Regions from separate parts of the Homo sapiens genome. Here region 1 is linked to region 2. Evidence: fine-mapped expression QTL. Tissue or cell type: esophagus muscle. Region 2 holds a variant in brackets; the other region holds the start of a gene. All regions are shown on one strand. Distances are between the middles of the regions.

Evidence for each region. PIP is the estimated chance that this variant, and not a neighbour inherited with it, causes the effect.
Region 1: RHOXF1 starts here. The variant in region 2 is fine-mapped to the expression of RHOXF1 in esophagus muscle (GTEx, PIP above 0.99). The same link has a PIP of 0.9 or more in aorta, atrial appendage, ileum, left ventricle, stomach and transverse colon.

Annotation. Positions count from the first base shown.
Region 1 is chrX:120,112,937-120,118,085 of GRCh38, reverse strand. It overlaps RHOXF1 (Rhox homeobox family member 1), which reads left to right and starts at 2,173. Exons shown (of 3, transcript NM_139282.3): 1 at 2,173-2,621. The coding sequence starts at 2,224. All of the region lies in intron 1 of RHOXF1-AS1 (RHOXF1 antisense RNA 1), which reads right to left. It overlaps LINC01402 (long intergenic non-protein coding RNA 1402), which reads left to right. Exons shown (of 3, transcript NR_126557.1): 2 at 175-224; 3 at 377-444.
Region 2 is chrX:120,140,707-120,145,855 of GRCh38, reverse strand. RHOXF1-AS1 (RHOXF1 antisense RNA 1) reads right to left here. Exons shown (of 5, transcript NR_131238.1): 4 at 1,956-2,133; 5 at 1-218. Among named protein-coding and RNA genes, the nearest start is that of RHOXF2, 15 kb to the left of the region's middle. The variant G/A (reference allele first, on the strand shown) is at 2,200.

The DNA.
Region 1 (5,149 bases), 28 kb after region 2:
CCTCAACTAGCTCTGGAATAAAGCCACTTTCTTTCTACCAGACGTCGTTCTTGTTCACTGGACTTTGCAACTGGTGAGCAGTCGGAGCTGTGTTCAGTTACATGTATGCCTTGCCTCATTGAACTCTCATGAAAACCCTATGATCGAGACACTGTTGTTATCTCCATTTTATAGGTGAGGAAGCTGAGAACCAGATAGATTCATCCAGTGTCCTAGGACACACAGTGAGTCATGCTTCGGATCTGTGCTCCTAGCTGATGCCTCCCATTACTGGTAGTCCTTTCCTGCTCCCCACAATGTACATTTATTCATTTCTTTTTCTATTTTCTTATTATCTTTCTATTTTTCTTCTTCTTCCTCTCTCTTCTCTCACTAGGGATAGAACGCAAGGATCTCACTTAGCCCAGTGGATGGCAGTCAATTAATGGAGCGAGTGGCTTAGTCCTTGTCATGCTGCCAAGTGCAAGGGCCTTTCCATGCTCAGAATCACCATGAAGACGAGAGCTATCTCTCTTGGTAGGCTACAGACTCAAAGGGTCTGCATATTTATATATGCTGCCAAAAAAACCTCAAATAACCAATAGATATAAATAGATACAGAAAGTTTTTAAAAGAACATTTAAAAATAAAATTTTTAAAAATATTTTTAAAAAACAAAATAAAGTATATAACATCACTTAAGAGCACACACACAATCTCTAGAAAAATTAAGGATTCATGAGTTGTCCACCCTCAAAAGACATCTCCATGCCCTTCCTCATGACAGACTCTCTTAGCGCTTTCCTTTCTTTCATTTTCATTTTATTTCTTATTTTATTATTTATTTTAAAGAAAAGGGGCCTCTGTCTGTTGCCCAGGCTGGAGTGCTGCCATGTGATTCTAGCTCACCACAGCCTCAAACTCCTGGGTTCAAGTGATCCTCCCATCTCAGCCTCCTGAGTAGCTGGGACTAGTGCAGGAGCCACTGCACCAGGCTCTTCAGGGTTTTTCTTCGTAATTGGGCTTATTGGGGTCAGTGGTAGGAAGGCTGTGTAGTTACAAGGCTCTGTGGAGCAGAAGTGGCCCCACATCCAGTAAGCTGCATATCCTTAAATCCCAAATCTCCATCCCAAGATTGGAGATTTTTGGCAGGTATGCCCTTACTGGTGCTCTTCCTATACCATCCCCGATTTTATTTATTTATTTATTTTTTGCTTGTCCTTATAGCACTCCATTTTGCCATGAGTACAGGTTTCTCTTGCATAGCCAAAGATATTCAGTCTCAGGCTAACAGATTCAGCCTCGTGTTTATTCTGTGTTGACTTTCTCAAAGGGTGCGTTAGATTTCTTGCAGAGCACATCTTACCACCCAGAATGCTCTGCATGCCCATCTCCAAGATCCCGATCCCAGCACTGAAGAGAGCATGGCAGCTCTGCTTTCAGTGCCTTTGCTGGAACTCTGAACAAGCAGCCCCCAGTCAATCATTTCTGCTTAATTAATAGCCCGCGCCCTGTGCATGCTGCCAAATATGGAGGGTCAGGCCATGAGATATTCTCCAAACTTTTACTCAAGGCGTCCTATGGTCACCGTGAGATCTCACCTCCCCTCTGAGCCCCCAAATCAGCTTTCCTCAGGGTAATAACTAGGCCCGAGTAGGGTGTAGTCAGCAAAGCTGCAAGCTGGGGCCCCATGTTGCATACATATATGCCTCCTATTGGCCCTTTTCTTCTCCACACTGCCCCTGTGTTTTGGCCACCCCACTCCACCCTCAACTGCCACCCCCACCCACGACCCATACCACACCCCTCACCCCCACCCACAACCCCTACCCCCACCACGCACCCTCCACCCACACCTCCCATCTCCACCCGCTACCCCCACCCCCACCATGTACCCCCACCGGCAACCCCCACCCCAACCCACAACCCCTACCCTCACCCGCAACCCCCACCCTCACTGTGCACCCCCCACCCTCCACCCACACCCCCATCCCCACCTGCACCCCACCCCACACTCACAACCCCCCACTCCCACCTGCAACACCCCCACTCCCCACCCGCACCCCCCAACTTCCCATCCCCCCACTCCTCTCCATTCCCTCTCTTGCTTGTGCGCATAAGCAAGTCCCACTCATTGCAACTGTAACCAATACCAAGCATGAGAACAGGAACTAGCTCCACCCTCTAACCCCCACTCCAGCTGCAGACGCCACGGAGTTTGTGCAGGGGCGCAGCGCTCCAGCCATGGCGCGTTCGCTCGTCCACGACACCGTGTTCTACTGCCTGAGTGTATACCAGGTAAAAATAAGCCCCACACCTCAGCTGGGGGCAGCATCAAGCGCAGAAGGCCATGTTGGCCAAGGAGCTCCAGGCCTCATGGGTAATATGAACCCTGAGGGCGGTGTGAACCACGAGAACGGCATGAACCGCGATGGCGGCATGATCCCCGAGGGCGGCGGTGGAAACCAGGAGCCTCGGCAGCAGCCGCAGCCCCCGCCGGAGGAGCCGGCCCAGGCGGCCATGGAGGGTCCGCAGCCCGAGAACATGCAGCCACGAACTCGGCGCACGAAGTTCACGCTGTTGCAGGTGGAGGAGCTGGAAAGTGTTTTCCGACACACTCAATACCCTGATGTGCCCACAAGGTAAGTGGCCTGCTCCAGGAGCCACGAGATCTCCAAGTTCGTTTCGAGGCATCTTTTTCTCTCCCTTGCCCCACCCAATCATGAGGAAAAAGCCACTGGGGGTCCTTGCCTGCCTTTGTGCTGGTGTGGAGGGGGATATTTACCTCCTGGGCATCAAGGTAAATGTTTTATTGCAATGTTTATGTGAATGAAACCTGGAAACTAGTCCGTGCCTCCCTTTTATAAAGATGTGGTAAAATACACGGAAATATGAAATTTACCGTCCAAACCACTTTTTAAGTATAGAGTTCAGTTGTGTTAAGTATGTTCACATTGTTGTGCAATAGATCTCTAGAATTCTTCTCATCTTGCCAAGCTAAGTCTCTATACCAGTTAAGCAACTCCCCTTTTCCCCCTTTCCCCAGCCCTTGGCAACCACCATTCTACTATTTTATGTCTCTATGATTTTGACTACTCTAGGTATCTCATGTAAGTAGAATCATACAGTATTTGCATTTTTGTCACTGACTTATTTCACTTAGCATAAGGTCTTCAAGGTTCATCCATATCGCAGCATATATTAGAATTTCCTTCCTTTTTAAGGCTAAATAATATTCCATTTTATAGATACAGGTGCACACCAACAGTACATGGGGGTTCCAGTTTCTCCACATCCTCACCAACACTTGTTATTTTCTGGGGTTTTTTACATAGCCATCCTAATGGGTGTGAGGTGATACTTCATTGTAGTTTCGATTTGCTTTTCCCTAATGATTAGTGATGTTGTGCATCCTTTCATGTGCTTAGTGGCCACTTGTATATCTTCTTTGGAGAAATATCTCTTTAAGTCCTTTACCCATTTTAAAATCTGAGTGGCTTTTTCTTTCTTTCTTTCTTTTTTTTTGGTTATTGGGTTGTAGGAGTTCTTTATACACTCTGGATATTAACCCCTTATCAGATGTGATTTGCAAATATTTCCTTCCATTCTATGAGTTGTCTTTTTACTCTGTTCATTGCATCTTTTGATATACAGAAGTTTTAAATTTTGATATAGTCCAAGTTATGTATTTTTTCTTTTATTACCTGTGATGATGGCCTGTTTTTGTTGTTGTTGTTGTTTTTGTTGAGTGGGGGATCTGTCACCCAAGCAATCCTCCCATCTCAGCCTCCTGAGTTGCTGGGATTATAGGAGTGAGCCACCACACCCAGCTGTGGTCTGTTTTTATAAATAAAATTTTATTGAAATTGGGGTAAGGAGAATGAGGTACTGTCATGCAACTACAGTGCTAGATCCTTCCTTTATTTAAAATTTTGATAATTTGTTCATCATAGTTTTTTTTTGTTTGTTTGGTTGGTTTTTTGTTTTTCTGGTTTTTTTGTTTTGTCTTGAGACAGAGTCTCTCTCTGTGGCCCAGGTTGGAGTGCAGCAGTGCGATTTCAGCTCTCTGCAACATTTGCTTCCTGGGTTCAAGCCATCCTCCCGTGTCAGCCCCCTGAGTAGCTGGGACTGCAGGCACAGGCCACCACACCTGGCTAATTTTTGTATTTTTTTTGTGTGTAGAGATAAGGTTTCGCCGTGTTGCCCAGGCTAGTCTCAAACTCCTGGGCTCAAGCAATTTGCCTGCCTCGGCCTCCCAAACTGCTGGGATTACAGGCCTGAGCCACAGTGCCTGGTCCTCATCACAGATTTTTGCATTAATTGTTATTTATTAAAATAGTGCATTAGGGCCAGGCACGGTGGCTCAGGCCTGTAATTCCAGCGCTTTTGGGAGGCCAAGGTGGGAAGGTTGCTTGAGTCCAGGAGTTCAAGAACAGCCTGGGCAACATGGCAAAACCCCGTCTCTAAATAAAACTTAAAAAATTAGCCATGTGGGTGTGGTGGTGTGTGCCTGTACTCCCAGCCACTTGGAAGGCTGAGGCAGGAGGATCGTTCGAGCCCAGGACATGCAGGCTGCAGTGAGCAGTGATCCTGCCACTGCACTCCAACATAGACGACAGTGAGACCCTGTCTCAAATAATAATAATAAAAATAATAATAATGCATTAAATTATTCATCTTGGCCGGGTGCGGTGGTTCATGCCCCAAATCCCAGCACTTTGGGAGGCTGAGACGGGCAGGAGTTCGAGACCAGCCTGGCCAACATGGCAAAACCCCATCTCTACTAAAAATACAAAAATCAACTGGGCATGGTGGTATGTGCCTGTAATCGCAGCTACTCGGGAGGCTGAGGCACGAGAATCGTCTGAACCCCGGAGGCGGAGGTTGCAGTGAGCTGAAATCACACCACTGCACTCCAGCCTAGGAGACAGAGTGAGACCTTGTCTCAATTTAAAAAAAAAAAGGTATTTCTCTTGATTACTGAGTTGTTAACGTCACCTTAAATTTCGTGATGAGGGTAAACCATTTCTAAAGCAACCATGGAGCTGGGAATTAGAGAAAAGTATATACTTGGGGGAGGTGTGAGGGGAGATTATAAATTGTAAAACAAGCATGAAGTAAATAGTACATACTATATATTTCATTTCATCCACAACTTTGAATACTAACC
Region 2 (5,149 bases):
TCTGACGAGGAAGATGTTTTCTTGACTTGAGTATGGTGGGTCCATCCTTTCTCAGCTGTGAGGATGGCAGTCTCAGTGGTTAACAGCATAAAATAGGGTCCTTCTCAGGCTGGCTCGAGTTTTTTTCTTTCTGTCTTTTGATGAGGATGTGGTTTCCAGGCTGCTGCTGGTGTACTGGAAATTCTAGGGCTGGTACCCGTGCTAAAAGACTTTTAGTTCTGAGGGAAGGGAAAGTGGAAGATAAAAAGTATATAATTTTTGCTGCATATTCTGGGGCTTGAGGTCCCATGGTGATGCCTCCCACTCCATTCCTGCTCAGCACCACTCACAGGATGCTGCAGCCCTGCCCCCTCTTAAGGTCTTGGCCTTCTAGTGGCCTTCATCTCCCCTGCACATTGTGGCCTTGGGGATGAGGAGCTTGTGACTTACCCAGCTGCCCTCGGACCTTAAGAAAGCTAAACACCATTTTATATTTGACAATGCTTTTTGTATGATTTTGTACCAGGTAAGTTAAATTTTACCTTTATATTAATGTGCTATTAATGTTAAACTTAATTTTAATAAAATCTTGTAGATATTATCCAATTTTAATGTCTGACTATAAGGTAAGATTTTTATAGACTCTTTTTAACATGTTAAATTTTTTGTTAAAGAGCAGGTTAGTGCTTTAAGAATAAACTATTGTGGTTTTATTTTAATGTTCAGTTCACAGCAAAACTGGATGATAAACCCTTTACCTTTAGCCAAAATGTTTACACACAGAATTTCCTTTACAATTAACATGTTAAAACTTGCTTAAACCTTTAAAACAAAAATTTTTAAACCTTTTAATGTAGGTAAAAATCCATATTCTTATGCCTCCTTATAATCCTTTTATTAAAAGTATATTTTATTTTTCTTACATACTTTGTACATAAACTGTTTTTTTAATAGTTTTACATTCAGGAGGCCTAATTACTTTTAAATTATACAATATTTCTTGCATAAATTCCCTTTATAACCTTTCTTACGACTTTCACAGACAATCTTCAACATGTCTTAACTTTCTGCCTTCCTTTTACACTATTTCTTTTCCTAGTTTCACCCTCTGTCTTTCTTTGATTTCTGTCTCTTACTTATTCTTTCCCTCTATTTCTCTCTCTCATTTGCACTCTCTTTTTTTCTCTCTCTCTCCGTCATCCCTTGTTCCTTTTTCCCTCCCAAGTTCTCCTGCTCCTGCCGGCCGGCAAGGCCGGGCAATGGCATGGGTCCCGCCCCCACACACACACTGCCGTCTGTTTCATCTGCTTTTTTTTTCTTTTCCCAATTTCCCTTTTTACTTTTTTCCTTTCTTCTTACACTCAGTTTCTTGGGCTGGGTGGGATTTGTGGGGCTGCAGTCCAGACCCCGGGCCATCACTGGCCCAGAGGCTTGGCAGATGCCTGCTGCAAGTTGCAATAATTATGCCCTTTCACCTCCTCTGCTCTCCTCCTGGCGCCGTTCCCCACCCTCTTTTTCACATAGAGCTGGGCTGGGGAGAGGGACTTAACCCTTGGTGCGCCTGTCTGGTGTCACGCTTGCTGTTTTTGCTCTTTCTCTCTGACTTCCTTTCCTGGTTTCTTTTTCCTCCCTGCTGGACTTCGCCTCTGCCAGCCACCTATGCTGCTGTTTTCCCCCCTCTCCTTCCCCTTCCCCTAGGGGAGCAACTGGTGGGAGTGGAGCTTAGCCTTTTTCTTTTCCTGAGAAGAGAGGAAAGGGGAGTTTTGAATATATATTTACTACCGGAGGTTTGTGTGAGATTCAACCCCCACAATGGGGATTTCTCACCTCTTTGAGGTTCAATCCCCCAATGGGGATTTCTCACCTCTTTTTGAGGTTCAACCCCTACAATGGGGATTTCTTACCTCTTTTTAAGGTTTAACCCCCCCAATGGGGATTTCTCACCTCTTTTTAACCACCCCAAGGAAATACTTTACCGGCTCTCCCAGTGTTTTTTTTTCGTCGATTTGGGCACAGAGTTTCCTGGTTCACGTGGATGTGAGGATCCTTTACTCCAGATCGCCAGCCAGTTTTTGTTTTTTTTTTCCTGCGTTGCTGAGAGTCTGGGTTTATTCATCACACCAGGTGGATCTTAATTCCATATCCCTGAGGCCACTGCAATGAGGCAGAGGAGTGTGCTCCCTCATGAGAAAGGACTGGAGACCGCCCCCAGAAGAGAAC[G/A]TATCCATGTACGGATTTCCACCAAAATTGTTAGAAATGCTTGTTTCCCAGTGCCATAAAGAAATTTACTTGAACATAAATTTAATTTCCTCAGCAAGGGCATTTTTACTTTCTGCAGAAAGGGTACACTCGCCAGCTGTTCTGCCATGAGAGTACACTGAACAAGGGAGACAGGGTCATTTATAACCTGACATGTCCACCCTACTGCTATGTCCAGTCTCCATTGGCTGGAATGGAACCTCACATTCTGTATTAGTCCTGATTGGCTAGCAACTTAGAACTTTTTAAAAGAGGCAAAGGCAGAGGAGAACAAAGGAAGGAGGAAGTAATTTATGGAATGCTGAGAAAGGTAAAAACACCTTCAAATAAGGAAAAGGAACAGGCTATCCTAATGCTTGCTTGGACCAGTATAAGCATGCCAGGGCAAATATTTAGGCTAAATTGTGGAAGCTAAGAACATAAAGTACATTGATTTCTTTATTACAGCTCACAGATATTTAAGAATGTTAGCCCAGGTCTTTGAATAAATTTTGCTTCTAAGAGAAGTTACTATTTCTTCCTAATTAGATGGGGAGGAAAGTCTTTGAAGAGGAACCTCTACTTTACTTTTCACAATCATGAAATGAAATTAGAAACCAATAGCAGAAGGGAAACTGGGAAATTCACAAATATGCGGAAATAAATAATATGCTGTTAAACAACAAATGGATTGAAGAAGATATCACCAGGGAAACTAGAAAATACTTAGAGATGCATTAAAATGAAGACACAAACTCCCAAAACCTATGAAATGCAGCAAAAACAATGCTCAGAGGAAAATCTATACCTAAAAACACCTACATTAAAAAAGAAGAAATGTGCAAAATCAATAATCGAACTTACACATTTAGAAACTAGCAAAGGAGAGGAAACTAGACCAAAGCTAGCAGAAGGAAGGAAATAATAAAGAATGGAGACAAACAAAATAGAGAATAGGAAAGCAATATAAACTATCAGCAGATCCAAAATGTGGTTCTCTGAAAGATCAACAAAGTTGACAAACTTTTAGCCAGACTAACAAAAGAGGGAATATCAAAAACTAAAATAAGAAATGAAAGAGGGGATAATACTGGTAAAAAAAAAAAAAAAAAAAAAAAAAAACCAGACACATAGACCAATGGAAAAGAATAGAGAGCCCAGAAATAAAGCTGCACACCTATGGCCATTTGATCTCTTACAAACTTGACAAAAATAAGCAATGGGGAAAGGACTCCCTATTCAGTAAATGGTGCTGAGATAGCTAACTAGCTATATGCAGAAGAATGAAACTGGGCCCCTACATATCATATACAAAAATTATCTGAAGATGGGTTATCATATACAAACATTTTATCATATACAAAAATTAACTGAAGATGGGTTAAAGATTTAAATGTAAGATATCAAACTATAAGAACCCTAGAAAATCTAGGAAACACCATTCTGGACATCAGCCTCAAGAAAGAGTTTGTGAGTAAGTCCTCAAAAGCAATTGCAACAAAAACAAAAATTGACAATTGGGACCCAAGTAAACTAAAGCACTTTTGCATAGCAAAAGAAGCTATAAACAGAGTAAATAGACAACCCACAGAATGGGAGAAAATATTCACAAACTATGCATCCAACAAAGGCCTACTATCCAGAATCTATAAGGAAACAATTCAAGAAATAAAAAACAAGTAACTCCATTAAAAAGCAGGCAAAAAACACATGAACAGACACTTTTCAAAAGGAGACATACAAGTGGCCAACAAACATTTGAAAAAATGTTCAATATCACTAATCATCAGAGAAATGCAAATCAAAACCACAATGAGATACCATCTCACACCCATCAGAATAGCTATTATTAATAAATCAAAAAACAACAGATGCTGGTGAGGCTGCAGAAGAAAGGACACTTACACACTGTTGGTGGAAATGTCAATTAGTTCAGCCACTTTGGAGAGCAATTTGGAGAATTCTCAAAGAACTTAAAACAGAATTATCATTTGACCCAGCAATCCCATTACTGGCATACATCCAAAAGAAAATAAACTGTTCTACCAAAAAGACACATTCACTCATATATTCATCACAGCAATATTCACTGTAGTGAAGACATGGAATCAACCTAGGTGCCTATCAATGGTGGACTGGATAAAGAAAATGTGGCACACATACACCGTGGCATACCGTGCAGACATAAAAAGAATGAAATCATGTCCTTTGCAGCAACAAGGATGCAGCTGGAGGCCATTATCCTAAGTTAATTAACATAGGAACAGAACACCAAATACTGCATGTACTCACTTATAGTGGTAGCTAAACATTGGGTACTCATGGACATAAAGATGGCAATAATAGGCACTAGGGACTGATGGGGGGAGGTAGGGAAGGGGGCAAGGGTTGAAAAACTAACTGTTGGGTACTATGTTCACTAGTATCCCATCCGGATGACAGGACCATTCAGATCTCAAACCTCAACATCATGCAATATACTCATGTAACAAACCTGCACATGTATCCCCTGAATCAAAAATAAAAGCTGAAATTATTTTTTTAGAAAAAGAAGAGGGGATGTTACCACTGATTTGACAGAAATAAAAAGGATTATAAGAAAATACTATGAACATTGTATTTCAACAAATTAGATGCCCTAATACATTGAAAAACAATTCCTACAAACACACAAACTACCAAAACTGACTCAAGAATAAATAGAAAATCTGCAAAGACTTATAACAAGTATGATATTTGACAATAGTGCCAAACCATTCAAAGTGAAACCACTTCCTCTGGGGCAATACCTGTAGTTAGTTGTCTCGCGCCGATGATTAACAACATGGACACACACGTGGAGTGGGTTAAGGAGCAGAAAGTTTAACAGACAAAAAGGAAGAGAGATAGAATAAGCTTCCTCATGCTGAGAAAGCGGGTCACCTGAGAGAGG